Regions from separate parts of the Homo sapiens genome. Here all the other regions are reported to be linked to region 3. Evidence: microRNA targets listed by miRTarBase, many of them from high-throughput screens and not tested one by one. Region 3 holds a microRNA gene; each other region holds the end of a gene's coding sequence. Distances are between the middles of the regions.

Region 1 (5,104 bases), 25 Mb from region 3:
AATAAGTGTGATGTGGTGCTGACAAGAATGTATATTCTGTTGATTTGGGGTGGAGAGTTCTGTCGATGTCTATTAGGTCTGCTTGGTCCAGAGCTGAGTTCAAGTCCTGGATATCTTTGTTAATTTTCTGTCTTGTTGATCTGTCTAATATTGACAGTGGGGTGTTAAAGTCACCCATTAATATTGTGTGGGAGTCTAAATCTCTTTGTAGAACTTGCTTTATGAATCTGGGTGCTCCTGTATTGGGTGCATATATATTTAGGATAGTTAGCTGTTCTTGTTGAATTGATCCCTTTACCATTATGTAATGACCTTCTTTGTCTCTTTTGATCTTTGTTGGTTTAAAGTCTGTTTTATCAGAGACTAGGATTGCAACCCCTGCTTTTTTCTGCTTTCCATTTGCTTGGTAAATCTTCCTACATCCTTTTATTCTGAGCCTATGTGTGTCTTTGCACATGAGATGGGTCTCCTGAATATAGCTCACTGATGGGTCTTGACTGTTTATTCAATTTGCCAGTCTGTGTCTTTTAATTGGGGCATTTATCCCATTTACATTTAAGGTTAATATTGTTATGTGGGAATTTGATCCTGTCATTATGATGCTAGCTGGTTATTTCATCCATTAATTGATGCAGTTTCTTCATAGTGTTGATGGTCTTTACCATTTGGCATGTTTTTGCAGTGGCTGGTACTGGTTGTTCCTGTCCATTTTAGTGCTTACTTCAGGAGCTCTTGTAAGGCAGGCCTGGTGGTGACAAAATCTCTCAGCATTTGCTTGTCTGTAAAGGATTTTATTTCTCCTTCACTTAAGAAGCTTAGTTTGGCTGGATATGAGATTCTGGGTTGAAAATTCTTTTCTTTAAGAATGTTGAATATTGGCCCCCATTCTCTTCTGGCTTGTAGGGTTTCTGCCCAGAGGTCCGCTGTTAATCTGATGGGCTTCCCTTTGTGGGTAACCTGACCTTTCTCTCTGGCTGCCCTTAACAGTTTTTCCTTCATTTCAACCTTGGTGAATCTGACAATTATGTGTCTTGGGGTTGCTCTTCTTGAGGAGTATCTTTGTGGTGTTCTCTGTATTTCCTGAATTTGAATGTTGGCCTTCCTTGCTAGGTTGGGGAAGCTCTCCTGGATAATATCCTGAAGAGTGTTTTCAAACTTGGTTCTGTTCTCCCCATCACTTTCAGGTACACCAATCAAACATAGATTTGGTCTTTTCACATAGTCTCATATTTCTTGGAGGCTTTGTTCATTTCTTTTCACTCTTTTTTCTCTAATCTTGTCCTCTCGCTTTATTTCATTAATTTGATCTTCAGTTACTGATATCCTTTCTTCCACTTGATCGAATTGGCTATTGAAGCTTGTGTATGCTTCACGAAGTTCCCGTACTGTGGTTTTCAGCTCCATCAGGTCATTTAAGCTCTTCTCTACACTGGTTATTCTAGTTAGCCATTTGTCTAACCTTTTTTCAAGATTTTTAGCTTCCTTGCGACGCATTAGAACATGCTCCTTTAGCTTGGAGAAGTTTGTTATTACCGACCTTCTGAAGCCTACTTCTGTCAACTTGTCAAACTCATTCTCTGTCCAGTTTTGTTCCCTTGCTGGCAAGGAGTTGTGTTCCTTTGGAGGAGAAGAGGCATTCTGGTTTTTGGAATTTTCAGCCTTTCTGGTCTGGTTTCTCCCCATCTTTGTGGTTTTACCTACCTTTGGTCTCTGATGTTGGTGTCCTATGGATGGGGTTTTGGTGTAGATGTCCTTTTTTTGATGTTGATGCTATTCCTTTCTGTTAGTTTTCCTTCTAATAGACAGGCCCCTTAGCTGCAGGTCTGTTGGAGTTTGCTGGAGGTCCACTCCAGACCCTGTTTGCCTGGGTGTCACCAGTGGAGGCTGCAGAACAGCAAATATTGCTGCCTGATCCTTACTGTGGAAGCTTCGTTCCAGTGGGGCATCTACCTCTCTGAGGTGTCTTTCGGCGCCTACTGGGAGATGTCTCCCAGTCAGGCTACACGGGGGTCAGGGACCCACTTGAGGAGGCAGTCTGTCTATTATCGGAGCTTGAACGCGGTGCTGGGAGAACCACTGCTCTCTTCAGAGCTGTCAGGCAGGGACGTTTAAGTCTGGAGAAGCTGTCTGCTGCCTTTTGTTCAGATATGCCCTGCCCCTGGAGGTGGAATCTACAGAGACAGTAGGCCTTGCTGAGCTGTGGTGGGCTCTGCCCAGTTTGAGCTTCCCTGCTGCTTTGTTTACACTGTGAGCATAGAACCGCCTACTCAAGCCTCAGCAATGGCGGACACCTCTACCCCGCCAAGCTCCCACGTCCCAGGTCGATTTCAGACTGCTGGCGCTAGCAGTGAGCAAGGCTCTGTGGGCGTGGGACCCACTGAACCAGGCATGGGAGGGGATTTCGTGGTCTGCCAGTTGCGAAGACTGTGGGAAAAGAGCAGTATTTGGGCAGGAGTGTACCCCTCCTCCAGGTATAGTCACTCACGGCTTCCCTTGGCTAGGAAAGGGAAATCCCCCGACCCCTTGGCGCTTCCCAGGTGAGGCGATGCCCCACCTTGCTTCGGCTAACCCTCTGTGGGCTACACCCACTGTCCAGCCAGTCCCAGTGAGACGAACCAGGTACTTTAGTTGAAAATGCAGAAATCACCCATCTTCTGTGTCCATCCTGCTGGGAGCTGTAGACTGGAGCTGTTCCTATTCGGCCATCTTCAATTTATTTTTATTTTTATTTTTTGTGGAGACAGGGTCTCACTTTGTTGCCCAGGCTGGTCTTGAACTCCTGGGCTCAAGCAGTCCTCCTGCCTCTGCCTCCAAAGTGCTAGAACTAAAGGCATGAGCCACCATGCCCAGCCCTCTTGAATGTTTTATAGTTTTCGTTATACAAGTCTTATACTTATTTTGTTAAATTTATTCCTAAGTATTTAATTCTCTTTGGTGATATTGTGAACACAATTTTCTTTATTTCATTTTTGGAGTTTTCTGAACAGAAAAATACAATTGATTTTCTGTATATTGATCTAGCCTGTGACCTTGCTGAACTTGATTAATTCTATTACACTATGATTTTTTGTTGTGGTTAGACCCTTACACAATCAAATGAGGTTAAAAAAAATTGTCAGAGTGGCCCCAGACCAACAACAGGATGACAGTAGCCTTTGCCCATACAGAGATAAAATTTAGTTTTTGCAGTCCTTTCCCATAGAGATTGTATGGCAGTAGCCAATTCTATGGCCTACTGCCATACAACCTGAACTGAAGTCCAGAAAGTTTAGGTGACTGGGCCACAGAGCTAATTACTGGTGGAGCCAAGAAGAGAAATTATATCCCTACCTCCTTGCCCACTAAGCTCCCCATTCCAGTGGGCTGCTTTCTGGTCCTTTTCCATGATTGGGCTTTAGTAGCTGTCATTTCCTCCAGTGTCCAAGAGTATTTTCTTGGCCTTCCAGTAAAGCTCCCCAAGTTGTCTGTGTTCCGCCTCAACTGCTAACTTGCCTACCTGATAAACATTTTGAAAAGCAATCTAAATTCTAGAAATTGTCTCTCCTGCAAACAAACTACAGATTCCATTTAAAGCATTTCCTTGAGTCCAGAAAGTTCTGAGATTTTCCTGTTTTGGACTAGACTTCCAAAGGGCTTCATCTTAAATTGTATGTATTTATTGACCTAATTGTTTACTGATCTTTAGAATTTAGAGTTTAGGTTGGGAGGTCAAAATCATAACTTTCTCAATTTTTTTGGCAAACTGATATGATGGCTGGAAATCATCCAGAAAAAGTAGAGATCATTATATTTTCTTGAATATTCATTCAAGTTTCAATTTAATACTTAAACATTCATTTTCGAATAAAAATACTATGTCTTGTACTAGGGATACAAAGACTTGGTTATTCTTGTTGGAGTAATGATTCTCCTCTATCTGGGGAGGTCATCCTCTGCAGTTGGGGACTGAAGGACTGGGAGATGGGAGATTGAAACTTAAAGAGGTAAAGGTATGTCTTGGAATAAAACTAGTTATCAGTCACCACCAGACCATCATGGCGGCTAGAATTCCAGAAACGGTGAATAGAAGTTCATCTTCTATTTTGTCTTCATGGAATATATCTGTGAAGCAAAAAAGGATACTTTGAGTAAAACATGTATTGGGAGGCCAAGGCAGGCAGATCATGAGGTCAGGAGTTTGAGACCAACCTGGCCAGCATGGTGAAACCCCCATCTCTACTAAAAATACAAAAAAACCCAAAAAGTTTGCCAGGCATGGTGGCATGCACCTGTAGTCCCAGCTACTCGGAAGGATGAGGCAGAAGAATTGCTTGAACTCGGGAGGCAGAGATTGCAGTGAGCCAAGATTGCACCATTGCACTCCAGCCTGGGTGACAGAGCAAGACACCATCTCAAAAAAAACCCAAAAAACAAAACAACAAAAAAACATGTAAAGTATTTTACTAGCTGTTGTAGACACTGTGTGTCTTGTCAATATTCATTCAATTTCTTCCCCATCATGTATATTCTACCCAACAACAGTTTGGGTGGAGTAGACTGAGCTTCGTATTCAACTTGAGGGCTAAGTTTTAACTGATCAAGGTCAACTGGAAAAGCCCTTCTCTTTCCTTCATCCCTAGCCAGAATGATTTCATTAGCTCTTCCCCTTATCCTTTGCCAGAATGATTTCGTTAGCTCACAGCATTCCCATGACCCCATGAATTGGTTCAGGGCTGTCCTCAGTCAGGATGAAGTTCAAGACTCTCACCAAGGCAGTATGGTATGCTATATATAAAACTGGAGCCTACTGAACATTTTTGCCCCTCTGCTAGACACCTTCTAAGATATCCCCCAATGGCTGTTGTCTCCTGGTATTCATGCCCTTGTATAATCCTCTCACCTTGAGTATGGGCTGGACCTAGTGACTAGTTTCTAACTAACAGAATATAGCAAAAGTGATGGGATGTCACTTCTGAGATTAGTTATTAATACAAAAAGACTGTGGCTTCCATCATGGGTATCCTCTCTCACTGGCTCACTCCGATGGAAGCCACATGCCATGTTGTGAGGTGCACTCTAGAAAGGCCTATGGGCAGGGGATTAGGGGAGGTTTCTAGACAACAGT
Region 2 (5,104 bases), not on the chromosome of region 3:
GGTGTTTGGGGAAGAGTGGGGGAAGGCTGCTCTGCTCTGAAGTGAGCTTTCTCTGCTATCTCTCCTGGCTTCCCAGCTCCGGGACAAGGAGCGGCAGATTATCAAGGAGCGTTTTAAGGTGAGTCGGGGTCCTCTCCCCTCCACTGCTTGCTGCTGCTGTTGAGGCAACACAGACCCAAAATGTTTGTCTCTGGGTGCCTTCCTTTTTCACCTTTTTGGTGGCCAGGGCTTCAATGATGGCCTCGAAGAACTGTGCAAAATCCAGAAGGCCTGGGCTATTCCAGACACAGAGCAGAGGGACAGGATTCGCCAGGCCCAGAAGACCATTGTCAAGGAGACCTACGGGGCCTTTCTACAGAAGTGAGGCCTCCATTCCCCTCCCAGCCTGTGCTGCCCACAGCCCCAGTGGGCCTCTTCAAGCTCCTCTTCCTCAAGGGAAAAAGGAGAAGGGTGGTGGATTTAGGCAGCAGATCCAGCGACCTGGGCTTTGGGGCGGGGCCAGACAGGGAATCGCTCAGGGCCACCCCTTCCAAGACTATCAGGAGTGCCTTAGGCTGAGGGTGGAGCTGGGGAGGGGTCGGCCCTCCCTGTCCCCTGACCACAGTGCCTCCTCAGGTTTGGCAGCGTGCCCTTCACCAAGAACCCGGAGAAGTACATCAAGTACGGGGTGGAGCAGGTGGGCGACATGATCGATCGCCTTTTCGACACCTCTGCCTGAGCCTGCTGCTAGCCCTGCCTGGTTCCACCAGACTGGCGTGTCATTGGACAGATAAACCAGTGTTAGCTTGCCTCTGGGCTGGGTGAGCTTGAAGTCCTCTGGGACAGAGACCTGTCTCCACGCCTCCGGGAGCTGTGTCCCTGAGCCCCCTAGTCCTGGCTCCTGCTTTTTCCCCACAGCCCGTGTTCCCAGCCGAACCAGCACTCTCCCGGAAGCCTGGGGTCCCTCCACACCTTGGCTTTTATGACCCTGATGGCTTCTGAAACAGGAAAAGAGAGAAGGAAGACAGAGGCCTGTGCCCACTGCTGCTCCATGTGTACCAAGAGCAGCAGGGCAGAAGGGCCCTCCCTCCAGCCTAGGTCAGAGGTGGGGACAGAGAACTCCCCTACAGCCCAGAGATGTGGCAGGGCTCAGAGAAGCAGCCAGAGCTCCTGGAGGAAAGGCAGTCGGGACTGACCCCCTCTCTTAAAACACATTCCCGCCCGCCCACAGGCCTGAGGTCTGGGACCTTTCCCTCCCAGGAGTCCCCTAGGTGGCTGGGGGAGGCAGGCTCACTGGCCATTTTCCCTAGAGTCCAGCACACTGCAGGAGGCGTTCGGAGGAGGAGTTCCGCCCCACCCTCTACAGCCTTCCTCAGGCCCCTGTCTCTGGCCCCCAGCCTCAGTGCCTCTTGGCCCAGGGCCAGGCAGTCGTGGTTGCAGAAGGAGCAATTAGGCTGCCTGCCTGTGGGCTGGGAGACAGGGACAATGGGGAAAAGTTAAGGAGCAAAATGGGGGTTGGAAGCAAAAAATAGGGCCCCACCTATTTAGGACGAGATTGAAGACTGACCCTTGAGGCACACTTGCACTGGAGATGGGTTTATTTCACGCTCTGTGCTTGTGTGCTAGCGGAGGGAGAGCTCAGGGTGGCTTAATCCAGAGGCCCTGTCATGGCCCGCCCCCAGCCATGGGAAAGCAAACTTCATCCTAAGGTGTGCAGCCCAGGCCCTGCCCCTTTACAGTCTAGGCCGCCTGCCATGGGGTGCAGCCTCTCCAGGGGCTGCGTCAGACTTGCACGCTGCCCACATCCAGATTCCTGCAAAGACGAATTGGGTGCACAGCACCCCAACCACATACACGAGGAAGAAGATGCGGTCAGCAGTCTCAGGCCAGCTTCTCTGTGACCCCTTTACTCCTCTGGAGGGCTCTGTGGGGAGAGATACAGGGAAAGGAGCTGTTCTTCAAGGTCCCCTCAACATGAGCGGAAGAGCGAACCCCAGGGGTCATCAGCCTGTATCGCTTCCTTTCTTAGATTCTCAGCTGATGAAAATTTGGGTCTGGCCCATTTCAGGCCATCTTCAGTTGAAGAAACACCCTCTTAGGCTGTGCAAGGCATGGGTTATCAGGGGATTGAGGTCACCTGGGACTTCAGGGAGGCTCAGCTTGCTCCCTGCCCCAGACCTGTTTCTTCTAAGGGAGGAGGACATGGTGGAGACCAGGGACAGGAGAGCCAGCAGGGTGGATGCAAGGGGCCTCTACCCACACCTGGACCTCCGTGCCCTCACCCCAGCCCTAGGTGTGCACCTAGGCCTCATTCCTTACCCCCCAGCCCCTGCCCACCTTCAGCAGGATGAGGCCCTGGGTTGCCGTGCTCTCGCTGTTCCCCTCTCGGGGCTGGGCTGGGGCCGCTCTTGGCCCCAAGGTTGCCCCGGGCCAGCAGCCCAGCCAGCAGCACAGTCTCTATGGTGCTGAGGAAGAGCAGCAGCAGCAGGATGGTGAAGTAGTAAACTGGGGGAGGCAGGGCACAGGGAGATGCTCAGGGGCCAGTCCCTGTGTCTCTGGTGCCCAGCGAGCTGAGCACCAGTGGGTGACCGGGGAGAAACAGGGCAGACTGGGTAAGGGAGCAGGGCTTACTGAGCAGTGGGTTGCAGGAGGAGGAGCTGGGCAGGGCCTGCACCAGGGAGGAGTGGAGGACGAGGTAACTCAGCAGCAATGTCACCTTGTAGCCTATGCGCTCAATGGCCCGGAGGGGCAGCAACCCCCCGCACACGTCAGCCAACAGCAGTGCCTCTGCAGGCACCAAGAGAGCGATGATGGACTTGAGCGCCGTGTTCTTCAGCCTCAGCTGGAAGGGGAAAAGTCAGGGCCTTCCCGGCGGGGGGGAAGGAGGTGGGCATCGGGGGCATGGGGCCTGGCCTCTGGCCGTGCATCCTCACTCCCACCCGCCTCCAGCAGCCCTCTGTCGGCCTCCTCCCGACTTGACTCACCGTCACCTGGAAGCAGGGCACCAGCTGCTGGGGTGGGACTTGGGTCTTCAGATCATAAACTACGTATTCCCTCTTGACACTCACAATCTCGTTCACCACGTGGGCCTGGAACTCTAACTCCATCGCTGAGGGGTGGGAATGAGAACTATGAACCAGGAAGGAGAGATCCCAGCTGCCAAGTCTGGGGGTAGCAGACTGGAGCCCAGGGGTGATGGAGACTTTTGATGGCTTTTGGCAGGGACAGACTTGGACACAAAACCGATCCATAGAAGGGCTTCCCAAACCTTGTTTTGCAACATCCCAAATTGTCTCCAGTTGAAGGAAGGCCTTTATCAGATTCATAGATGAGCTTTCATTGTAAAAATAAATGTACTTTGCACCACTTCATGATGGAGGGAGAAGTGGTCACAGGCTCGTCAGTCTATCATCTCACAGCTGAAGCAGGATCCCCAGGGCTACCGCTGTGGTCTCTCATGGAGGGAAGGGTAGGACTTCTCTGCCAAGTTAGATGTCACCTGATGGGTTTATACAGGGTGGCTGCACCTTCAGGTGGTTTCCAGGAGTGAGGCCATGGCAACCTGAGCCTCTGGCCTTGCTGCAAGGGGCCGAGCCACTGCAGTCGCCATGGCTGTGGAGGGCAGTTGCTCTGGGGAGGACAGAAGACTGATGTGCTCGGACCTCTGGGATTGCAGAGCTGCTGCGAATGTTTGAGTCTGTCACCCTAGAGAGGGGCCCTGAGGCTACCGCTGAGCACAGAGATGGGCTGCCACTCGAGTGGGGGGCGCAGTGGGAGAGCAGGTGCTGCCCGCCTAAGCCTGGGGTAGACTGCTCTGAACACAGACCTGGGAGTTCGCCTTCTGTCTGCCTTTGCCCCTTCCCCTTGCCCCGCACCCTGCCCCTGCACCACAGACCTGGGAGTTCCCCTCCCCCACCTTCCTCCTCCCCTCCTCAACCCTGCAGCCCCTGCCCTGTCAGCACCCGTGTTGCTGAGAGCGTAGAAGCTGAGGCTGCAGTTGCTGTGGTCCCGGGGGAAGTGGAGGAGCTCAAAGTTGCAGTTGGTCTCCGTGGCGAGGGCCAGGTTGAGCTTCACGTGGCCGTCCTGGTCTACTCGAGCCTGGGGGCTCTGGTCCCTCCAGTCCACCCAGAGCCTGTGGGGAAAGGCACCACAGCCAGAGCCCCAGCCCCTTCTTGGACGGGGCCGGGGGGAGACCCTGGCATCCCAACCCCAACCCCAGCTGCTTTCAGAGTTCTGGCAGTGGGAGGGGAATTCGAGGCAGTGAAGGTGCACTGCTAGTCCGGCGGGGACCGCCAGGAGGGTCATATTCACTCAGACAGCCTCTAGGTTGTAGATGGGGGAAAAGGAGGGCTATGCATGGCAGATTCCTGGGGCAGGAACTGTCTCACTTACGCCTCCAGGATGGTGAGCCTTGGTGTCCAGAGAGACTCCCAGGGCAGCGTGATGGCGTGCCGCGGGTGTGCACTAGTGTTCCAGGCCAGGCGAGTGTCCAGCCAGGACTGGGGACACAAGGGCACCACTGAGGCTCCTGCTCTCCACATATCCATGCCCCTAAGCTCAGCATGTTGATGAAGGCTGGTAGTTCTGAGCTGGACTCAGCTGGGCTTTCCCATCCCACCTCCCCAGGCATAGGAGCTCACCAGCCTAAGCAGCAGCATGGAGGACATTGTGTATCGCAGGATGTCCTGGGGGAAGGGCAATGCATCACCTCAGGGTGAGCGCTGTGTTGAAAGAACGCAGCAGGAGACCCCAGCACTATCCAGGGCTGAGTCCTGTTCCCTGCCCAGCTCAGCACTTGGGGCCCTTGGCCTAGAGGCACTTACCACATTAAACACGTTGGAGACAAACACCCGCACATCCACGAGCAGGGGCGCACTCCCATTGTTCGGGATCTGGATGCTTTCCTGAACCTTCTTGGACAAGTTGACGTTGAAGAGGGATGGCCAGACTGAGAGAGAAAAGTCAAGGTCACTCAGGTGCCCTAGGGCCCAAGTCCCAAAGCTTATGACCTTGCCCTCCACCTACTGGCTGCTGTCCCTTGGAAGCCCTGCCCGTGGACCAACAGCAAGGTAATGCTGAACCCCAGGAAGGTGAGATGGAGCAGGGACCATAGGGCCATCATCGG
Region 3 (5,104 bases):
ACAAAGCAAGGCATCTCTGCAATACGAACACAGCAATCAACATAAGAAGTCAGTTCTTGCTGCCCCTGTAGCCCACTGGCCTCCTTGATGTGCTGTGACAACCCAGGACAAATCCGGAATCATTACCAGTGCATGTCCAAAAGAAAGAGGTGATTTCCTCCAGTCAGGTTTAGACCAACACCTCCGGCCAAGAGAGAGATTAGCATTACCTTCAAAAGGAAACACAACATTAACTTTAAACAGACTTGGTCTCGTAACACATCTCGGTCTCAGGTTTAAGTCCACAATCAATACAGATAAGCACTGTGTTCCTATCAAATTTCCTTCTGCTGTTATAAATTGTTTTTTTTTTTAACATTATAATGCTATCTCCCATGTCTCACTTTTGAGAAAATTCTCACATCACATTTTGTGTGTGTGTGAGTCAACCTCAAAAAATTAACTGAGTGCTTGCCAAAATATATAAATACTGTAATTTAGAACCCTGGGGATGGTCAGCTCAATAAACTTTCAATTAACCAGATTATGTTTATTTCATCAGTCCCTACCCCTCCATTGCTACAATAATTCTCCTGCCTATCATTCTACTAATGCTTTCCAAATCTTTATTATCTATAATTAGATGCCTGTGTTCTTTCATTTCCTTCCATATTTCCTCATACCAAAACCCCACCTATCCTTCAAAGCTTGCCTCCTCTGCAAAGATTCCCCTCAACCTAACCAGCTCTGCTGTTAATCTCCTTTTAGTCCTCATATTTGATTCTTTTTAGAATATTTGTGCTCTTTAAAAGTATCCCAATACATGTCTAATAAATTCTAAACACTCGGAGGAATCAAGGCTGTAAATATTTTTAAGTTGCCATATCAGAATTCTCTTTATATGGCTGGGCACGGTGGCTTACGCCTGTAACCCCAGCACTTTGGGAGGCCAAGGCAGGTGGATCACCTGAGGTCAGGAGTTCAAGACCAGCCTGGCCAACATGGTGAAACCTCATCTCTACTGAAAATACAAAAATTAGCCAAGCTTGGTGGCAGGAGCCTGTAATCCCAGCTACTTGAAAGGCTGAGGCAGGAGAATCGCTTGAACCCGGGAGGCGGAGGTTGCGGTGAGCCAAGATAGCACTATTGCAGTCCAGCCTGGGCAACAAGAGCAAAACTCCGTCTCAAAAAGACAAAAACAAAAACCAACCAAACAAAAAGAATTCTCTTTGTATAACTCAGAACAGTTAATTATGCGGCTCTGATGTGACCAGCTTGTACCTGAGGGCCTCTGGAGTGGTTAAATGCCTCTACCAAGTCCATTCTCTGCTTGGGATTGACAGAGCCATCGATGGTGGCATAAGTCAGTCCATGCTTCTTCAGGTGCAATGCTACAACTTTCAGCATGTTGGTCCACTGAGAGACAATGACACTGGAAAGAAGAATAAAATAAAAAAATACCCTAACATAGATTAAACAGACTCATCTGCAGGGCTTTAATGCCCTCATCATTCTTAAGGTTAGCTATCAAATGTTGACAAGGAAAGGCCTTCTGCTACCTAAGGGAGAAGGCACACATTTAGGTCATATCTGAAGATTATAATGCTTCCAGTTATTTCTAGGTCCTTTCTACAATTTATTTAGTGCTAAATGAAGTCAGAAAAAAATGGTAGCTAGAGTAAAGTGATGACTCCAGCCTTCTTTCATTTGGGGTCCTAGTGCTCATCCAGAAATCTGTGGTCCTGCACAAAAGGGACACACTGACCACCCTTCTTGTGCCAGCCAGAACAACAGGCTCCTCCCTGCCCCCACGCTGTCTTAATTCGAGTTCTAAATTTTTATATTGAATTATTTTATAAATAATGCAGGTGTATAGCACATATGTCAGGTATAACAAATGAGTCCTTGTATCCAAGTACTCAGCTTAAGAACGTTATCAGCACTGCTGGAGCCTCCTCACTCGCTTGCTTTTCTTTATATGCTTCTCTACTTTTAAACACTTTTTCAGATGCTTCGCTTACCCTGATCCTCTAGGGATCTCCTTTTCAATTTGTACCACAAATATTTTAATTAGAAATCACAGGGAATGTGTGCTATAACCTCAGTGCTTTCTGCTGAGCATGACTCACAGTCCTTGATTTATAACTCTTGGCAATATCAAATTTTCTCACATAATTATGACCAATACTTGGATAATGAGAAAACGCAGTTACCTCTTTTGGGATGCTGAATTTCTTTGAATTGCCTCCAATTCTGCCAACAGAGATGAAATCTGGGAAAAGGTTACATCAACATTGTATGTTTAAGCAATTCACTTTTCTCCATCTCCCCTCACCTGCCATGCGAAGCAGCCTCCTACATGGCGTCTGTGCTCTGGCCTCACCTGTCTTTATTCCACCCTCCTCTCTGCAGCCAGAAAGCTCTTTCTAAAATGTGAGTTTGTCACTTCACCCCTCTGGCTAAAGCCCTTCCATAGCTTCCCACTGAGGATAAAGGCCAAGCTCCTCAAGGCAGCTTGCCGGATTCTTGCTGCTCCAGCCTCTGCTTCTCTGGGTTCGTTTCTCACCATGCCCTCCTCAAACGACACAGCAAGCACACCAAAATTCTTCCCATAAATCACACACTGGCCATCTTGTCCATTCTGCTCCCTCTGCCTAGAACACCCTTTTGTGTCAGCTTAATGTCACTTCTTCTTGGAGGTCCTCCCAACCCCCAAAGTACAGGTTAGGTGCCCACTGCCCAAGTACTATCATAGCACCTTTTGTTTCTATTATCACGGTCCTTGTCATACTGTATATTAATTGCTTATTATCTCTTGCTTCCAGGACTTGAGACACTCCAAGGAGGCAAATATTAGGAAAGTAACTTCTCTGTTTCGGCCATGTGTGAGGGGCTGTGAGTACACACATGGCCAAAACAGAGAAGATACTCTCCTAATGTTTGCTGAAGAAGAAAGTGAAAGAGCTTTACCCACTTTATGGCCTGCTCCAAATGTTGTTGAAAAGGACCTGTCCAGACGGAGGAACCATTGTTAAAGCTTCCGAACAGGCTCCCTGGGTATTCCCCAAGAACCCTTAGGGTGCACTTGAGTCCACAGGGGAGCTGTCAGTAAGAACACGTGGGGCATGACTTTGGAGTGCAGCTGGGCTCATTCTTCCCAGCTGCTCATGTGAAAAACCTTTCAAGAGCCTCTAAGGGCCCCAGAGTTCACCCCCAGAATGCTGGAGAAGGAAGAAAACTGGGCTGTAAGTCAATCAGGAGACAAATATACAGAAGTTCTTCCTCTGTCCTCATATGGCTGGACCACTTTGGGACTCAGATTCCTCATCAGTGAAAAGAAGGACTTAGGCCAGATAAATTCTGAGGTGCCCTGAGCTCCCACATTCTAGGATGTCATTACAGTGGTCACCACATGGGGCTGCTTTCCAATCTTAACAAACATTCTGGTGCCTAGGCAGGAAGTGAGTCACAGAACTGTACCATTCAAATTAGCAGACAGAAAAGCAGCTACATCTGTTATTTAGTTAACAATAGAACAGAGACACTGATGTGCCTGGTGTCTTGGCAACTTGAGATTGTGGAAGGCGCTGTGACTCCCACATGAAAAAGCTAGCCATGGTGTTTTGAGAAAACTGCAGCAGGAGGGCTGGATTTATGGCCCACGAGCCGGGGTCAAATTCCAGTAAGAAGCCTCCTTCCCTACTTGAAACAACCGTATGTGGTTTGAACTATTAATGGACATATGTTAAGAAAACTTGTGAATAAATATTACCTGCATTTAATTAAACAAGGAACACAAATGATTAGGAATTTAAATTTTAGCCCAATAGCTCACTCTGAAGGCACTAGCATGTGTGTTCTGGCCACATGGGATGCTCTTCTTATGTTTCTCTCAGCTATCAGTGGTAAAGACCTAGGTAAATGTTTTCAAATTTTAATTAAAAGGCAGCATTCCTTTTAAAAAATAATGCCATTCCCCTGGAAGTGACCTTTCTAGTTATTAATACACTTTTTCAAAAAAAGCCTTTGAAGAGAGGTTGAGCCCAAGAACGGCAGCTTGAGATGCTAAGAGAGAAACAAGCCTCACTTTCAAGACAGGCAGGATGATGAAGCACATTCCGAGCCAGCAGACAGGCAGGATTCAGGTTACGGCATATCTAAGCCTTCCTCCAGCAGAATGTTTCTGCCTTAAAAAGCTCTGACGAAAACAGAGCAGAATGACTAATGAAGACAGAAGGCTATGTAGGAAACACTACTCACATGTGGAAGCCTTTCAAAGTCAGAGCAATTGGCGCTCGCATGTATGACACAGTCTCTAGAGTCAAGCCTTTGTTTTCCTTTTAAGCTTTCTCTAAACAAATTGCTCACTTGCATAGGCCCCGTCCCTAGCACAAACCTGGCAAGCTCCCCAGTGACCCATGACAGAAAACCCACTTCAGTGCAATGCTGGGGTTGTCCCAAATTACTCTCTCAAAGTCCCCTATGTAGTAAGGCTTTAGTGTTATCTGTGAAATAAATGAAGCTTTAAGACTGGAGGGAGAATCTGATCAGCTAGAATTTAACGGCTCTAGCTCTGCTGGCAAATGGCTGTTCCCACTTGGACAAATGAAGTGCTGTCACACAGGAAAATGTGTGAGGAATCGAAGTCTCTCGACTACTACAGAGGAGACAAAAAGTACCTTGGTGCTCTCTCGCATGCCTTCAAAAAGCTCCATCTTGAAGAAGGTGCCGTTAAGGGAAACAGTGGAAGATGGCTCTGAGTCACGGAGTTCTGACAAGGTCAAAGCACTGAGCTGTTCTTCCAGGGAAAGGACAAGACCTTCACCCTTCAGTTCCATTGGATCCAGGGCCTGAACAGACAAAAAAGGACAGGAGCAGCTGGGAGTCAAGGGAGCAAACCTTGTTACTTGTTGATGATGTTTTGATTGTTTACCACTTCACAGAGCAAAATATCTTGTAATTTGTCATCAGTAACTCCTCAAGACACCTTGATTAAAGTGTGATCTTGCAAGTTTTTTCACCACATTAAAGATAAACCAAATGATGGAACTTTTTAAAGACTTGCCAGGCAGATGACATAATCATTCTATTTTTTCCAAGCTAGAATATAATTGAGATGTTGATA
Region 4 (5,085 bases), not on the chromosome of region 3:
TTAATAATATTTTTGTTCTTCTTTATGTAATGAATTTTCTTTTCTGTTGGCATTTTTTTTGTTGTTATCTTTGGCTGTAGTAGTTTTATGATATGCCTATGTGCAGCCATTTTGTTTATTATATTTGTGCTTCATTGAGCATCTTTGAGTTAACGTTTTTCACCAAATTTGAGAAGGATTTTGTTATTATTTCTTTAAATATATGTCCACCATTTCTCTTTCTGTGCTCCTTGTTAAACTCCAATTATCCTTATGAGTTATGAAAGGTTTTTTTGCCACATAGTTTTAAACCTTGGAAGAATGTTTGGGAATAAGAGGGGGAAGTATGAATGAAGTGCCACCACAATTTTCTAAGAAAACTTAGTTCACTAAATATGCACACAACTACACAATTCATTAGATTTACAGTGAAAAATATTAATGTTACCGGTCTTCTTTTCCTATCTTTACAACATTTGTTTTAGGAGCATTTCCTCCCTCTGCTATTTATACACGGAAAGACTTACTACAGCGATCTACCCATATTGCCACCAAGACTTTCCAGGCTCTTCGCATATTTGTGAACAATGAGCTCAATGAACTCTACACGGGACTGAAGACAGCTCAGAAGTTTCTGAGACCTGGTGGTCGTCTTGTTGCCCTCTCCTTCCATTCACTAGAGGATCGCATCGTCAAAAGATTTTTGCTTGGAATAAGCATGACAGAAAGATTTAACCTAAGTGTTAGACAACAAGTGATGAAAACATCTCAATTGGGTTCAGATCACGAAAACACGGAAGAAGTCTCTATGAGAAGAGCTCCTTTAATGTGGGAATTGATACACAAGAAGGTACTTAGTCCACAAGATCAGGATGTACAAGATAACCCCAGAGGGCGCTCAGCCAAGCTTAGAGCAGCTATCAAATTATAAGTTATCATCATCTTATTCTTCAAATTTTTTTCTCACAATTTCTCTAATCTTTACTCATGTTATGTCCCTGAATGTCTTGGTATAGGTTTAAGTGTGGGACAGTCTGAAAATTGATAGCATTTAGCATTTCTTTTTTCTCAAAAAGAAACTGTAGGAAATACATGACAGAGAAAGTTACACTCAGGGAGCAGCAGCACCTCCAGACTGGAAAAATATGTTAATCTTTGCATCATATTGGACTCTTGAAGGCAATCCTTCCTCTGGCCAGGAAATTTTTTAAAAAATAATACTGTGTTGTGTTTATCTAAATACGTAAACTCAAGCTACCAAAGAGAAAGATGTTGTAATCATATCTGCATGTCCTAAATTTTGAATTTAGATATTCCAATTTGCATCAGTCTTTCTGTGGCTCAAATAATGATGATTATGGAATGAATTTTAATGTCCCTACTTGTGAATAATTAGCTTTCTCAAATGTAGGCTTTTTACAAATTTTAAATTTTAAAATATTAGTTTAAATGTGTGTTATACTGATAAAATTTCATCTTTCAAATTATAGTCTATTATTTTAAAGGGATTTTTCAGTATGATATGGGCCATTTTGTTCATCTATCGCAAAGTAAAAATGTAAAATCCTTACAGAGAATTGTTTCACAAAACTTATATTTCATGTCAATTGTATTTATTTTAATAATAGCTCACAATGCCTTTAGTAAGTAATAAAGTCTCTTATTAGAATCTTGTATTTTTTAATTGAGCTAATCAAAATAATTCAGCCAAGTCTATTTGAAATAGAAAACTGTCTATTTAATATAGTAAAATCAATGCTCCCTTAATGTTGTTACAAAGATATGGTAACTGTAATATGGGTAAAAGTTTATTCAAGAAAAGAGTACTTGGTAGAAGATTCTTTAACAAATTGAGGAGATTGATTCATAATTCACATGTCAATTTTTTATAGTAATATGTACTTCTAATTTATTATTTATACTTAAATTGTGACCTGAAAGATGAGTTGGAGATAATTAGTCAAAGGGCACATGGAGTATGGAAGGGGGCATGTTGATTAACCATACATAGAAATAAATATTCTCTTAGTTATCCTTGAAATCATATTTATACTATTAATTTGCTCAGTGCACTTTTTTCAAATACAGAAAAAAGATTCTCCATTATAGTTACAAATTTTAGGTTGGTGAATCCAAGTGAATGAAATATCAGCATAACTATGTGGGCAAAATAGATAGAATTAAATGCATGAATTTTCCTCAGACTTATTTTATCTGCCTCTGTAATATTTAACTTTAGTACCCAGGCTTGTTCACTACTTCTGCTTTACAGGCTTTATTTAAATCTGAACAATCCTACAGGGAAATCAGAATTAGGAAAAAAATCTGGAGAACAATATGGTTGAAATAGAAACAAGAGAATGCACCTAGGTTAATTCCCTGAATCCTACTTGAACATTGTATAAATTTCTCTTTGCATATAATACATATTTGTGAATGAGACATATTCCCAAAAAATTCTTATCTCTGTATGTGATTGGAAAAGAAAAGATCACATTTGTATATTCAACAATCTTTCACCTATTTCATAAGTCATTTTTTCACCCTGTATAGTATGGGAATTATTTTTTATGTTAAATAGAAACTGAATGTACTGGGTTGAATGGTGTCCTCTCCAAAATTCATGTACTTCCTGGAGCCTCAGTATGTGACCTTATTTGGAAATACTGTGGTTGTGGTTGTAAGTAGCTAAGATGAGGTCATACTGGAGCAGGGCAGGCCCTTAATCCAATATGACTGGTGTTCCTTATAAGAGAAGATAGGGCGGGCATGGTGGCTCACGCCTGTAATCCCAGCACTGTGGGAGGCCAAGCCAGGCAAATCGCTTGAGGCTGAGGAGTTCAAGACCAGCCTGGCCAACATGGCGAAAACCCATCTCTACTAAAAATAAAATTAGCCATGCGTGGTGCTTGTAATGTCAGCTACCCAGGAGTCTGAGGCACAAGAATCACTCGAACCTGGGAGGTGGAGGTTGCGAGATCACACCACTGCACTCCAGTGTGAGCAACAGAACGAGACTCTGTCTCAAAAAAAAAAAAAAAAAGGAAGAAAGAGAAGATAGAGACACAGGGGAGAATGCCACATGAAGCTGGAGGCAGAGATTGGAGTGATACATTGTGGGAACCCTCAGAAGATAGGAAAAAAGCATGGAATAGATTCTCCCTCAGAGTTCCAGTAGTTGCCAACCCTGCTAACATGGTTTTGCACATCTAGCATCCAGAACAGTGAGAATGTATTTCTGCTGTTTTAAGGTACCCAGTTCATGGTAATTTGTTACAGCAATCCTAGGAAGCTAATACTCTGACAGAAAAAAATCTTGGATAATATGCATGAGAAAAATCCTTCAATAAACACAAAATTGGTTTCAAAATGTTTTCATGTAAAAATAAATTAACTTTTCTGTAATTAGATTGTGTTTTATAGTAATTCTTGCCTGCTTCTTAGTCTTTGTTGTAGGATGCATAATAAAATACATGAATGAGTTTTAAATGGTTAGCTTTGGAGAATGGTTTTGGGAAGTTCCTACAGTACACAGAAATAAAAGCTAATGTTACTATGAATGCGCATTACTTTTCTAATAAAATGTTTCTGAATCTCTGTCTTGACTGCCTTCTATGAATCATTTTAACATAGTATCAATGTCATTGTGTAGTACATCAGTTCTTAACAGTTTTTAGTTCATTACTTAAATAAAATTTAATAACTACAATTTTTAGATAATATCCCTATTTTTATTTTATTTTTAAAATTGTATATTAATTACTATGTTCTTTGAAGTTTCTAGGGGTGTTCTTGAAAGACACTATATCTATATGTCTTTTCTATTTCATGTAGTATATGATATATTATTTGTGCTTAAATTCATTGTAGTAAACTATTTGTTGTGCTACAAGCAGTAGTTTATAAGAGAATACAGTATGCCTAATTAGATTTTTTAAATGAACTAATATTTCTTAAAATTCACTTGCAAATATTTGAAAATCATATTTTCTTAAGTCTTTGCAGAGTATTACATACCTAAGGTTTTTAAAATTTTTGTTTCTAATTTTTGTTTTTAAGAAGTAGAGATAATGAATCTGTACTGCAGACTTTTAAAAAATAATTTTACTTTCATTTGAAATCTGTCATTCAAAAAGTATGAGACAGTTCTTAATGGGACTTAATGGCTAAAAAAAGAGAAAAATATATGTATATATGTACTCAAGCGTATATTAGAAGCTAACTGTTTAGGAAGAAATAAAAAAATACCTTTTTCACCACTCTCCCTCTTTTTATATACCATCCCTTCTTCTCTGTTCACATTGGTATGTAAATTTGAGGTGACATTAATTATGTTTCAATTTATCTCTGGAAAAAGAAATATTAGGTAATTTTGGCACATACCATGACAAACTAAGCCTTACATATTAGAATCTTTTTAATAGATTAAAAACTAAATTAAAAATTGCTTCTGGTTAAAATTTTGTAAAATTTATTTTACTGCAATTATTTTTCTATTTAGTTTTCATAATTGCTTCAGTATCCTAATTGATATTTTTGTGTAGCAGCATTCTATAATAGACAGGGATAAGCATTTAAACATAAAGAGAATTTTGTGAGGTGCTTGATAAATATAAATTTGAAACTCTGATCAAAGATATATTTTTCTCATAACCACAATGCCATATGTTTGATGTTGATTGAAGTATGGTTTGTAAAAATCAACCCTATATTCTAAAGAGGCTGGGTTGTATAACAAACACAGCTATTTTTATATTATTTTCTCAAATCTTATCTGTTTATAGCTACTATATCCAACTAATGTTTGGTAACACAGGATGATCTGCAGGAATGCTAAGAGAAAGTTTACATATAAATTATTTTTTTAAAGTCTAGTTGCAGCATAAAATTTTAAAAACATTTAAAATGAAGAATTGTACAACATACAATGGTCATAATTTATAATGCTTGTCACTGACTTTTTGGCCACCTCACTTCCTTCTCATAATCTGCCCAAATTATTAGGCAACAAAGTAAAGAAAATTTAATATTTCAATATGCACAGCAGGAGATTGTGTCTTTGGTAATGTTACTTTAAATACTGAACAAGTTTTCTACTATTAGCTG
Region 5 (5,104 bases), not on the chromosome of region 3:
GAAGCTTGCTGTCACCCGCCTCCCCAGCTGGGTGTACTGAATATGGAGGTAGAGACCAGGCTTCAACCAGAGTATTATGAGTATCAGAGTATCATGAGGGATAAATTCAGCTTAGCCCTGTGAGGCCTTGGAGGTACTTGGACATGTTGCAAACCCTTGAACACTGTTAGACTGTGACAACAAATATCTCTTTGCAGGACAAGCAACTTCAAAATTCCACCTAACAAGCTGCAAGAAAGGGAATATCAGAGTAGACCAAGTCACAGATGAACTTTCTGAAATGGACTAAAGGCATTTTTTAGTGAACATGGAAGAAAAGGAAGATTTTTACAACGTAGCATTCCCACAACCTAAAAAAATTTCACATCCAACTGTTTTTTTATCTTCTTTGGTAGACATCAATGAAATAATTCCTTTAAATTCACAGAAGATAGCAAAATTAAAAAGCCATATTTATTTAATGCATCAAATACCAAAGTTCAATTAAGGAAACTATTGCAATCTTCACCTGAGATAGGCCCATCATCAGGTTAGAATAAAGTGTGATAAGGGGAAATGTTGTAAAAACCTCTTACGGCATAGCAACATGACTGCAGCCCACCAGTCTCAGCCATTACTGATACTGACCCTTGCAAAGAATCAAATCTCTAATATAATCCTGAGAATGTGCACACACATGTGAAGGAAAGAGGTGTATTATGTAATGGAACACTGATAGACAGACGTCTTAGCTCGCCTTACAGTTTTTTTTTTTTTTTTTTTTTTTTTTTGAGATAGTCTCGCTCTGTCGCCCAGGTTAGAGAGTGCGGTGGCGTGATCTCGGCTCACTGGAACCTCCACCTCCTGGGTTCAAGCATTTCTTCTGTCTCTGTCTCCCGAGTAGCTGGGACTACAGGTGCCTGCCACCATGCCCGGCTAATTTAAGTATTTTCAGCAGAGACAGGGTTTCACCATATTGGTCAGGCTGGTCTCAAACTCCTGACCTCAGGCGATCCACCCACCTCAGCCTCCCAAAGTGCTGGGATTACAGGCGTGAGCCCTGCGCCCGGCCAGCTCTCCTTACATCTTGATTTCAATCCTATAAATGGGAAATGGTAGGGAGCACTGTCTAGTCTACTGTGGGATTTCTAGTTGTCATAACAATAAGAACCATATAAACAACGCCCACCTGGTAAACATTAGGGTGGCCCAGGAACTCTGCAGCAGTCACTGAGCACATTCCAAAGAGCGGATGTTAACCCCCCAACCCCGTATTTTAAAGGGCTAGCTTCAGTCTGGCTGCCAATGGTTACATTTTTTCTTCCCCACCTTGTGTTTAGCCTCCCCTTCTGTGTCCAACCTCCTCCACTTCTCAATGACCCCAAGGGCCTCTGTAAGTGCAGGATTCTACCCAAAACCCTCCCAATTCCAAAGGGTGGGCCTTGGCATAAAGAGGCATCATTCCAGGGTGCTACACGGTGGCTTCTGAGGGAAGACCAAGAAGGCTGAACCTGTTGTATTTGGTAATGAATTTTGTTTTCTCCTGGGTTGGGTGAGCACCTTAGGAGCTTACTGTGGAAGCAGAGTCCTAGCGAAAATAAGACTGGCATTGATAGGATGTCTTGTATCATCAAAATGCTTAACAGGTCCATGAAACATCCTAGCATTGCTGTGAGAGTGGTTCCAAGGTTTCTATGAATGGTGGAAACAGACACAAACGAAATGTGGGAAGAAGCTTTGGGAAGACCAAGAATGAAAAAAAGGGAAAAGAACCTAACACTCAATGCAATGCTACTTAAGGAGAAAAATACATAAACCGTTCTTCAAGCTTTAGGTCCAAAACAATGTTCTCTCTTAAGAGGGTGGTTTGCAAACAGGGACCATGAGATAATTTACAATCAAATCATTTCAGATATTGAATGATGATTCTGAAACACGCATTCTATTTCCATCAATGTGAGGTTTATTTCCATAGAAACGGTGAAAAAAGTAGGCCAAACCCAGCAGTATGGCTTCTAAAAGGAATAGCAGCTGTGGTTCTGGCCAGCCATGGAAAGCACTGGTTTTGTAACTACTATAGTAAAGAGCTCTGACTGAAGGGAAATAGAAAGTTTCAACTCAAAGAAAGGGCATGGAAAGTATCTGAGAACTTTCCTGGCTGTTTCTTACAAAGCCATGGAGAAAAAATCATCTCCTGTGCACCCTGCTCTTCACAATGCCACAGTAAAGTCGAATTCACCACCTGCGAAACAGCTGCCTCCTGTAGGCTGGCCTCAGAGGAAGCACACATGCTCCATCAGTTGCAACAAGGCGAAAGTCAGAAGAGTGTGAAAGTGTCAGGCCCAGTGCTCCCGGAAAATGAACCCGGAAACACTCAGTGAGGCACCACCGGTGTGAGAAAGAAGAGACAGGTGTCTTCTCCAATGGGCACAAGTATGTCATGCTTAGAAAAGCAGAACACAGGATGAAACAAAACATATTTATTTGCAAAGAAAGATCATGTTTAAATTGTACCTGTGTTTAAAAATGGCCTCTTTGATGGGTTATAAAAGTGCAGGCAGGTTTTATGAAACACGCACTTTGCCTCTCTTCTATCCTTTTGTGGGAAGCAGGCAGATGCTGGCTGGAGGACATTTGAGAGCTCGGAGCTGAGGCTCATCACAGCCAAATCCCTCACTCACCAAGTGAGCGGAGCTGCCACTGACGCTTCTCCACTCCCGCAGAATCTACTATTGAGCACTGGGCCCCCTGAGGACAGGATGTGACCCTGGCTGGCATGATTCATTCAACCCGTTCATCTTGGAATTCTTTTGCAGAAAAAAAAAAAGTGACACTTCTATGGCTAAAGATTTCCTTAAAGAAGAAGAAACATCAGAACGAACCTTTGTGCTGTGTGAAATGAGGGAACAAAAGATTACTTTCAGTGAGTTGATATCTGTAAGCTAATCAACTGGGTACTGGCCTCTTGTTAGAGGAAAAAAAAGTCCAACTTGGAAACCATTACCACAGGAAAAAACAATGACTATGTTGTTCATTCCTGTTGGTCACTTGGGTAGTCTAAGAAGTAGGACATATATGTCTGTAAGCCCTTTAAAATACACATCTTTTCTTTTTTCTTCTCACTATGTAAAACACATATATATTATCCTAAAGTCACTTGAAAAACACAGACTGCTTACAATCAATAGAAGATACCAGTAAGATGCAAGAAAATGAGCATTTTACAGACAGACCTTTGATAGGCTTTAAAGTGAATCGTTTTTATTTAAAACAGGGATCCATCAGAGGTGGTGAACTATCAAGGTCAAGGTTCTAGAGCATGGCACAGATGAAAGGTAATACTCACCAGCACCTCACATGGGACTCAGTGACAATGTCAGCAACACACCATGGAAGGAGAACAAACCCGATGTAAAAGGCACCTAGCTGGGGAGAAGCTGTGGTGTTCACTGCCTCTCTAGCAGGTTTGCTTTTGTGCACTGTGGCTAAGTCTGGATGAATAATATTGGGAAGGGAATAATCGGAAGCGAGGCTCCTATGCAGGCAGCTACCCTCTCCTGATTGGTGTATACTCGCCATGTGGTAGGAGGTCTTACAGGAGACTGAGGTTACCAAACAGGAATACAACACCTCTCTCCCTTTTCTGCTCTAGAAGGAAGGGGAACCCTTCCCCCAGTATCAATTTCAGCAGCGGCTTCTAAAGGCTGTTAAAAAGCATCCTAACTTAAAAACAAATAACAACAGTAACCAAATAAAAGACAGAAAAGTGGCCTGAACTTAAATCAATCAATGGAAAGGTAGATTCATAAAAATAAAATAAAAACTGGTGACCAGTCCATTAACCATGGGGTTAATGCCTCGTCTGAAGGAAGATGTTTACGCTGCATCCACGATCCAGCAGGCGCGGAGCTGCTCTTGGCAACTGTGAATGAATAGCTACCGTTTCCCTTCAACACACCGCGCTGCCACCGGTGACCGCATGTCAAGTGCTGAAGTTAGAAGAGACCCCACGTTGGCAAAGGCCCCCCAGGCGATGATCTGCCTGACGCGGCCAGGTCTGTGGGAAACAAGACTTACGATCTCAAATAATGACCCCCAAGTGCCCTCGCCTCTTCCTGCTTGCCCTGTGCGCCTCGACCTCCTCACGGGGAGTTCCAAATGAGTTCCATTTCCCTCTCAGTTCTAGGCACTCTGGAACATCTTTGATTAACCAGGGTTTTTCATTTCTTTCCAACGCCATTGGTGACTTTTGACTTGGAATGCCGATTCCTTCTCCTGGAAGAATGGCTTTCGTTGTTGCCTGCATGCTTGGGTGGGCTGTCTTCAGAACCTGGCCAAAGGAATCAGAGCACACCGTCACCCTGGGCTCTGGAGATTGGTGACTGTCCCTTTCCAGACCGCCCTAGGCTTGCCGGGGAACAGGTTCTTCCCTGATACGTGCACTCCCCCTAGTGGCCTCATTCATAAATGAAGGCGAGGCTCTCAAACACAGAACTAGTACTGAAGGAGCACACGCGGTGGCGCGGGGTTCAACGCAATAGCGCCCCAAAGTCTGGGTGGTTCCTGAAGCGTGTGTACATCTGTCCTGTGTATGATGGACATGGTCATGATGGTGAGGACCAGAAGTGAGAGCACAAGTGAAACGGAAGCCCAAACGAGGGGCAATTAAAACACACACCACGCGGTGCCCATCCTGCCCTGCAACCAAGGGTTTCCATCCCTTCACCTGCTCCACACCACCTTCTAAACCCGACATCAGGAAAGACTCTTGACACTATAAAATCAGAGCTATTTCACACCCTCTACATTTGATCTGGAGAACATCTTTACAATTCAGGCCCCTGCTGCCCACGATGGAGGGCACTGGGCAGCCTCTGCCCTCCAGCTGAGCCTTTGTTCAGCCCCTGCCTGGCCTAGCGGCCAAGCCAAAGGGTTCTCTGCCCCAGGGCTCTGATCCAGCCCCATAGGAAATCTCCACCTGAGGCTGCCAACAAAAAAAAAGTTACCAGAGTTACAGTCTCCACTGTAAGGAGCATTTGACTTAGACTAAGAGATTCTTTCCCCACTCAGAAGACTTCTGTTTTTGTTATTTTTCTTTTTTTATTATTCCATCAAGTAAATACAT

The links. The annotated mature microRNA hsa-miR-942-5p reads UCUUCUCUGUUUUGGCCAUGUG and lies in region 3 at 2,884-2,905, opposite strand. An mRNA with a match to its seed (bases 2 to 7 or 8) in the 3' UTR can be bound and repressed. Matches are read on the target gene's strand: a 7mer-m8 pairs with bases 2 to 8, a 7mer-A1 pairs with bases 2 to 7 and ends in A, and an 8mer does both.
Region 1: miRTarBase lists RPAP2 as a target of hsa-miR-942-5p. Seed matches in the 3' UTR shown: 8mer at 1,419-1,426.
Region 2: the mRNA of EXOC7 is a reported target of hsa-miR-942-5p. Seed matches in the 3' UTR shown: 7mer-m8 at 993-999 and 7mer-m8 at 1,131-1,137.
Region 4: miRTarBase lists METTL15 as a target of hsa-miR-942-5p. Seed matches in the 3' UTR shown: 8mer at 2,731-2,738 and 8mer at 3,030-3,037.
Region 5: miRTarBase lists PTDSS1 as a target of hsa-miR-942-5p. Seed matches in the 3' UTR shown: 7mer-A1 at 3,094-3,100 and 7mer-A1 at 2,394-2,400.

What each region holds. Positions count from the first base shown.
Region 1 is chr1:92,386,008-92,391,111 of GRCh38, reverse strand. It overlaps RPAP2 (RNA polymerase II associated protein 2), which reads right to left. Exons shown (of 13, transcript NM_024813.3): 13 at 1-4,101. The coding sequence ends at 4,101. Among named protein-coding and RNA genes, the nearest start is that of RPAP2, 90 kb to the right of the region's middle.
Region 2 is chr17:76,079,262-76,084,365 of GRCh38, reverse strand. It overlaps EXOC7 (exocyst complex component 7), which reads left to right. Exons shown (of 19, transcript NM_001013839.4): 17 at 77-118; 18 at 227-360; 19 at 616-3,350. The coding sequence ends at 718. It overlaps ZACN (zinc activated ion channel), which reads right to left. Exons shown (of 9, transcript NM_180990.4): 1 at 5,005-5,104; 2 at 4,803-4,927; 3 at 4,620-4,664; 4 at 4,372-4,478; 5 at 3,942-4,111; 6 at 2,964-3,088; 7 at 2,611-2,821; 8 at 2,317-2,484; 9 at 1,560-1,903. The coding sequence starts at 5,101. The coding sequence ends at 1,713. Among named protein-coding and RNA genes, the nearest start is that of ZACN, 2.6 kb to the right of the region's middle. RefSeq lists a silencer at 3,072-3,272 and enhancers at 3,357-4,352, 4,472-4,521, 4,353-5,104.
Region 3 is chr1:117,092,456-117,097,559 of GRCh38, reverse strand. MIR942 (microRNA 942) reads right to left here and starts at 2,917; the gene lies at 2,832-2,917. TTF2 (transcription termination factor 2) reads right to left here. Exons shown (of 23, transcript NM_003594.4): 18 at 4,659-4,829; 19 at 2,193-2,251; 20 at 1,261-1,411; 21 at 127-209.
Region 4 is chr11:28,329,932-28,335,016 of GRCh38, forward strand. METTL15 (methyltransferase 15, mitochondrial 12S rRNA N4-cytidine) reads left to right here. Exons shown (of 7, transcript NM_001113528.2): 7 at 465-3,576. The coding sequence ends at 910. Among named protein-coding and RNA genes, the nearest start is that of MIR8068, 150 kb to the right of the region's middle.
Region 5 is chr8:96,332,662-96,337,765 of GRCh38, reverse strand. PTDSS1 (phosphatidylserine synthase 1) reads right to left here. Exons shown (of 13, transcript NM_014754.3): 13 at 771-4,309. The coding sequence ends at 4,200. Among named protein-coding and RNA genes, the nearest start is that of PTDSS1, 73 kb to the right of the region's middle.